Homo sapiens: one gene and its partner. The protein of the gene in region 2 purifies or fractionates together with the protein of the main gene of each other region. This does not show direct contact. Each region holds a gene or a part of one and is shown on either strand. Other genes may lie near its edges.

The links.
Region 1: the proteins of PKNOX1 (region 2) and VPS33A purify together in Homo sapiens (affinity purification with mass spectrometry, with the first as the bait; one large-scale study listed by BioGRID). This does not show direct contact.

The regions. Positions count from the first base shown.
Region 1 is NC_000012.12:122,259,929-122,263,744, forward strand, and holds part of VPS33A (vacuolar protein sorting-associated protein 33A), read right to left. Parts: intron 3,772-3,816; coding exon 3,644-3,771; intron 1,520-3,643; coding exon 1,333-1,519; intron 1-1,332.
Region 2 is NC_000021.9:42,977,373-42,981,188, reverse strand, and holds part of PKNOX1 (homeobox protein PKNOX1), read right to left. Parts: intron 1-3,816. UniProt on the Homo sapiens protein: Activates transcription in the presence of PBX1A and HOXA1.

The DNA of each region.
Region 1 (3,816 bases), on a different chromosome or scaffold from region 2:
GCTACTCAAAAGGCTGAGGCTGAAAATTCGTTCAAGCCTAGGAGGTCAAGGCTGCAGTGAGGTATTATCACGTCACTGCACTCCAACCTGGGCAAAAGAGTGAGACTCTATCTCAAAAAAAGAAGAAAAGGAAAACTCCAGAATAAGCGAATTCATACAGACTGAACTAGATTAGTGGCTGCCAGAGGCTGAGGGAAGGAAAGATAGCGACAGACTGCTACTGGGCATGGGGATTCTTTTCGGAATAGTTAAAATGTGCCATACTTAGAGAGTGGAGATAGTTGCACAACTTTGTAAATACACTAAAAACCACTGAATTTTGCACCTTAAAGGAGAGAATTTCATGGCATTGTGAGTTTTTTTTTTTGTTTTTTGTTTTTTGTTTTTTTGAGATAGAGTCTCCCTCTGTCGCCCAAGCTGGAGTGCAGTGGCGCAATCTCGGCTTACTGCAACCTCCACCTCCCGGGTTCAAGTGATTCTCCTGCCTCAGCCTCCTGAATAGCTGGGACCACAGGGACCCACCACCACACCCGGTTAATTTTGTATTTCTAGTAGAGACGGGGTTTCCCCATGTTTCCCAGGCTGGTCTCAAACTCCTGATCTCAGGTGATCCACCCGCCTCAGCCTCCTAAAGTGCTAGGATTACAGGCATGAGCCACTTACCTCAGCCAGTATTGTGAGTTATAATAAATAAAGCTAATATTTTAAAATTTTAAAATTTAACTACTTTTAATGGGAAGTGTCTACATGATAAAAGACATTATACACAAAGTTAAGCCAGGCGCGGTGGCTCACGCCTGTAATCCCAGCAGTTTGGGAGGCGGAGGCGGGCGGATCATGAAGCGGATCCTGGCCAAGCAACATGGTGAAACCTTGTCTCTACTAAAAATACAAAAATCAGCTAAGCATAGTGGCGCACACTTGTAATCCCAGCTACTCAGGAGGCTGAGGCAGAAGAATCCCTTGAACCCAAGAGGCGGAGGCTGCAGTGAGCTGAGATCGCGCCACTGCGCTCCAGCCCGGGCGACAGAGCGAGACTCCGTCTCAAAAAAACAAAACAAAACAAAAAAACAAAGTTAAAAGACAAGTCACAGACTGGGAAGATACTTGCAGCTTTTATAATCCATAATGATCAACATCCAGAATATACAAAGAATTACTCAAAAAGAAAAAACGGGCAAAGAAAATGAACAATTTGTTGAACAGAAAATCTTAAACATCAATAAACATATAAAATGGGACTCAGCTTCACAGTAATCAGTACTGTGGTATGCTCACACTCATAAACTGGGCAAAAATTAATGCCTGAAGTTAAGGAAATGCCAAACTTACTTTGAATGCACCCTCTGATTCCATGGATAAGAGATCCCCATCGAATGGAATGAGATCTAAGCTGTACTCCTCCCTGTGAATAAAGGATCCCAAGACACCCAGATCCTTCAACCGCTGTTCGCACAACAGGCTACGGCGTGGCACAAACAGAATATGAAAATCTCTCGTTGGGCCTCGTCTATCTTCACTGCAAAGGAAGCAACATTTGTTAGCTTATGAGCTCCTAAGAGTCATGGACCATTTTGCTTTTTTTATCCCCACTGCCTGGCACATAGCAGGCACTAAATAAATGCTGGCTAGATAAATCATATAAATACTGACTCTCAGGCCGGGTGCAGTGGCTCACACCTGTAATCTCAGCACTTTGGGAGGCCAAGGCGGGCGGATCAGTTGAGGTCAGGAGTTCGAGACCAGTCTGGTCAAGGTGGCAAAACCCCGTCTCTATAAAATATACAAAAATGGCTGGGCGCAGTGGCTCATGCCTGTAATCCCAGCACTTTGGGAGGCCGAGGCGAGCGGATCACGAGAACAGGAGGTGGAGACCAACCTGGCCAACACGAAGAAACCACGACTCTACTAAAAATACAAAAAATTAGCCGGGCATGGTGGCAGGCACCTGTAATCCCAGCTACTTGGGAGGCTGAGGCAGGAGAATCGCTTGAAACCGGGAGGCAGAGGTTGCAGTGAGCCGAGACCACGCCACTGCATTCCAGCCTGGGCAACACAGCGAGACTCCATCTCAAAATAAATAAATAAAAACTAAAACAAAAATATACAAAAATCAGCTGGGCATGGTGGTGTGTGCCTGTAATCTCAGCTACTTGGGAGGCTAAAGCAGGGGAATTGCTTGAACCCTGGAGGCAGAGGTTGCAGTGAGCAGAGATTCCACCACTGCACTCCAGCCTGGGCAACAGAGTGAGACTGTGTCTCAAAAAAATAACCAAAAACTGACTCAGACCCAACGTGTTACAGCTGTACCCACTCTCTCTCTCTTTCTTCCCCCTGACAGGAAAGCATCACTGAGTCCTGGCGAGTACATTTTAGCATTCTCTTAAACCATTTATGGGGCATTGAAGCTCTCAGGTTGATTGAAATAGGATATCTGTGTCTCAATAAAAACAAATGGTTCTTCAACCAAAGCAATGCAGCCACAAAGAGTCTTAAATTAAAATGAAAGATCACTTTTGACTCCCACTCCTACTCTCCTTGACAGAGAACTTCCAAAAATAGCCCATATGCTTTTAAGATTTTAGGGGCTGCAACAATCAATTGTACCACAGAGTGCAGACTCGGCTGGGAGCACTTCCTCTATAGACTGGATGCTATATTAAAATTTAATCAGCTTTTTTTTTTTTTTTGCTTATGAAATTCAAGTACATGCAGTATATTTAAAAATAACTGCTGGAGGTTTATTTTTTTAAACTAGGGCCCTTTTTACTGACACAGGTTTAAGCTTTTGGCTATCTTTAAAGAATGGGTAGCTTTTGGCTATCTTGAAAGAATGGGTAGATAGGATGATCCTCCTCTCCAACTGCTGACAACAACTTCCTAAGTTTCTCATCCTCTCTATTTTTAATTTTTGGGGGGTACATAGCAGGCGCATGTATTTATGGGGTCCATGAGATGTTTTGATGTGGGCATGCAATGTGAAATAAGCACATCACGGAGAATGGGGGGACACATCCTCTCAAGCACTTACTCTTTGAGTTACAAAACAATCCAATTACACTCTTTTTTTTTTTTTTTTTTTGAGACGGAGTCTCCCTCTGTTGCCCAGGCTGGAGTGCAGTGGCGCGATCTCAGCTCACTGCAACCTCTGCCTCCCGGGTTCAACAGACTATCATGCCTCAGTCTCCCGAGTAGCTGGGACTACAGGCACAGGCCACCAAACCTGGCTAATTTTTGTATTTTTAGTAGAGACGGGGTTTCACTATGTTGGCCAGGCTGGTCTCGAACCCCTGACCTCAAGTGATCCACCCGCCTTGGCCTCCCAAAATGCTGGGATTACAAGTGTGAGCCACCATGCCCAGTCTCACTTTTTAAGTTTAAAAATACGTAATTATTATTAACTATAGTCACCCTGTTGTGCTATCAAATAGTAGGTCTTATTCTATTTTTTGTTGTACCCATTAACTATCTCCACCTCCCCCCAGCCCCCATCTTCTCTTTTATATTCTTCCATGCCTATCTCAGTTTTCCAAAAGACCACCTTGCACTGGCAAGAGTGAGGGTCTTCCATGAGAAGGAGCTCATAAATTAAAAGCATTATAAGAACCAAACTCTTTTGGATCAAACACAAGCTCTGAGATACCTGAGCACGTTTTCAGCGATTATATCCATCAACTCTAGCCTGGGTCTGACAAAAAAAATTATATTCTTCACATCAGCTGCCGGCAAACGATTTCCTTTAAGTGTGAACATTTTTTCCACTTCATGTTCCTAGGCAAACACATACACAAAAGGTTAACAAGAAGACTGAAATTT
Region 2 (3,816 bases):
GATATGTCCACTCTACATGTCCTCCTGAACAGTGTACACAAGACAGAACCATGAGGTATCCACTCAGTGCTGCACACGGATGCAAGATGGTACTTCCCAGGGCCTGCAGCCACTTCCTTCACCCTCACCTCCAAGGACACACACTGTTAGGCTTTGGGTTCCCCTATCTGTGCCGTTTTTATTTCCTTGTCTCTTTTGTCATCAATATAATCATTTGAGGAAGTAAAGAAAGGACACCATATATTCCTACAAATGGATAGGCTGAGAGTAAATCAACTTGGTATTTGTGAACATGAATGATAAAAGGCAAAAACTTCTAGCTGAAATGTAGCACTCCTTCAATTACAAAGGCAGACAATAAGCCCTGGAGTTTTAGCAGGAACAGCAACAGGTATTTTCCAAAGCATTAGAGTGTCACAAAAAATCTCGTCACTACTCCCAAATGAATTACCAGAGCCACAGCTCAATCCGGTTACTAAGCTAATAAATGGGACTATCACCAATTTGGTTCAATACAGTATTTTAATAACTGTATTTCAAAATAATTTGTTCTCTTCTTCATCTATTTATTTCCTTTAAAGTGCTGTTAAGAGGCCCCCAGAGGCCAAGCAAACGTGAAAATTTAAGACGCCCCCTCTCCCACCAGAGTCTATACTTTGCATCACTTTAGCAGTTTCAGGCTGTCCTTCTAAACAGTTTCAGACACTTTTAACAATTTGCAACAAAAGTGTAAGCCGCAAATAGGATGTTACTTCTCATAAGTAGCACCTTTCTATTTCTGCTATTTACAAGTAGTATTTTTTTTTCTCTTTTTTCGGACATGGAGTCTTGCTCTGTCGCCCAGCCTGAAGTGCACTGGAGCGATCTCAGCTCACTGCAACCTCCACCTCCTGGTTCAAGTGATTCTCCTGCCTCAGCCTCCCGAGTAGCTGGGGATACAGGCTCCTGCCACCACACCCAGCTAATTTTGCATTTTTAGTAGAGACAGGGGTTGCCCCATCTTGGCCAGGCTGGTCTCAAACTCCTGACCTCAGGCAATCCACCCACCTCGGCCTCCCAAAGCGCTAGGATTACAGGTGTGAGCCACCGCACCTGGCCTCACAAGTAGTACTTTTCTAAAGTTACTGCCAGAGAAACGTTAACTACATATAGAGTACAGGAATCCCAACAAAATGCATTGTACTCAGTATCATTACCACAGAACCTGCTGGCACTTAGATCATAAGCGCAGAAGGTTAATCTTTGAAACAAGTCATACTTCACTGACCATGTTTCATCAATTCTAAGGCACACTTTTAAATGTCTGAAGTGAAAAGCATCCTTCACTGATGGGGTAAGAAAGCAGCGTGCCAGAAGGCACTGGGAGCATCTGTAGTGGTATAACACACTGCTGCATTTTAGATTCAACAGACTATAAGCACCTCATTTTTCTTTTTTCTTTTTTTCTGAGATGGAGTCTCGCTGTGTCACCCAGGCTGGAGTGCAGTGGCGCGATCTCGGCTCACTGCAAGCTCCGCCCCCTGGGTTCACGCCATTCTCCTGCCTTAGCCTCCCAAGTGGCTGAGAATACAGGTGCCCGCCACTACGCCCAGCTAATTCTTTGTATATTTAGTAGAGACGGGGTTTCACAGTGTTAGCCAGGATGGTCTCGATCTCCTGACCTCGTGATCCACCCGCCTCGGCCTCCCAAAGTGCTGGGATTACAGGCGTCAGCCACTGCGCCTGGCTATAAGCACCTCATTTTACCTTTTATTGTGTTTTGCTTTATTGCACTCAGCAGGTACTATGTTTTTCACAAGTTGAAGATCTGTGGCAACCCTGTATGAAGAAAGCAAGCCTATTGGTGCCAATTTTCCAAAAACAGGAGCTCACTTTGTGTCTGTGTTACATTTTGGTAATTCTTCACTATTTCAAACTTTGTCATTATTATGTCTGTTACGGGGATCTGTGATCAGTGATCTTTGATGTTCAGGTCAGGAACAGTGATTCATATGGGTAATCCCAACACTTCGGAAGGACGAGGCAGGAAGGCGGCTTGAAAGGATTCACCATTCTGGAAAGGAACTTAAGAGACAGCCGAGGCAACATAATGAGACCTCACTTCTACAAAACTTTTTCAAAATTAGCTGGGCATGCTGGCACATCCCTGTAGTCCCAGTTACTCAGGGGGCTGAGGTGGGAGAACCACTTTAGCCCAAGAGGTCAAGAGTGCAGTGAGCTATGATCTCACCACTGCATCCCAACCTGAGCAACAGAATGAGACCCTGTCTCTCAAAAACATAGCCAAGGCCAGGAACAGTGGATCATGCCTGAGGCTGAGGCAGGAGGACCACTTGAGGCCAGGAGTTTGAGACCTGCCTGGATAACATAGGGAGACTTCATCTCTTTAAAAAAAAACAAAAAAGGGCTGGGTGCGGTGGCTCATGCCTGTAATCCCAGTACTCTGGGAGGCCAAGGTGGGTGGATTATTTGAGGTCAGGAGTTCAAGACCAGCCTGGCCAATACGGCGAAACCCTGTCTCTACTAAAAATACAAAAATTAGCCGGGCGTGGTGGCTCACGTCTGTAGTCCCAACTACTTGGTAGGCTGAGGCAAGAGAATCACTTGAACCCGGGAGGCAGAGGTTGCAGTGAGCCAAGATCGCGCCACTGCACTCTAGCCTGGGCGACAGAGCGACTCCATCTCAAAAAAAAAAAAAAAAAGAAAAGAAAAGAAAAAAACAAGTTAGCCAAGTTGTAAATGCAAAGCAGAAGTTTCTTTCCAATTTTTGAAATTAAAAAAATACATACACAAATTTTTGAAATTTTAAATCACCTCTCAGAACAAAGGAAAACTTAAAGGCAATTAAAAAGTGCTACTCCAGTGAACACATGAATAAGAAAATGGCCAGGTCCGTTGGCTCACACCTGTAATCCCAACACTTTGGGAGGCCAAGGCGGGCGGATCACTTGAGGTCAGGAGTTCGAGACCAGCCTGGTCAACATGGTGAAACCTTACCTCTACTAATAATACAAAAATTAGCTGGACACATGCTGCACACCTGTTATCCCAGCTACTCGGGAGGTTGAGGCAAGAGAATTGCTTGCACCCAGGAGGCAGAGGTTGCAGTGAGCCATGATCATACCACTGCACTCCAACCTGGGCAATAGTCTCAAAAAAAGAGGGAGGGAGGGAAAGAAAGTGAAACAGCCTTATTGGTGATATGTGGAAAGTATGAGTGGTCTGATTAGATCAAACCAGCCACAACATTCCCTTAAACTGAAGCCTAATCGAGAACCAGGCCCAAGTTTTCTTCAATTCTATGAAGGCTGAGAGAGGTGAGGAAGATGCAGAAGAAAAGTTGGAGCCAGGCACGGCAGCTCACCCCTGTAATCCCAGCACTTTGAGAGGCTGAGGCAGGTGGATCACCTGAGGTCAGAAGTCCCAGCCTAGCTAACATTTAGTAGAGCCCGTCTCTACTAAAAATACAAAAAATTAGCTGTATGTGGTGGCAGCTGCCTGTACTCCCAGCTACTACGGAGGCTGAGGCAGGAGAATCGCTTGAACCCGGGAGGTGGAGGTTGCAGTGAGCCGAGATCACGCCATTGCTCTCCAGCTTGGGCAACAAGAGTGAAAATCCATCTCAAAAAAAAAAAAAAAAAAAAAAAAAAAGTTGGAAGCAGCAGAGGCTGGTTCATGAGGTTTAAGGAAAGAAGCTGTCCCCATAACACGAAAGTACAAGGTGAAGCAGCAAGTGCTACCTAACAGAAAAGCAACACCAGGTTATCCAGGTCTAGCTAAGATCATTGATGAAGGCAGCGAGACGAAAAAGCAGAT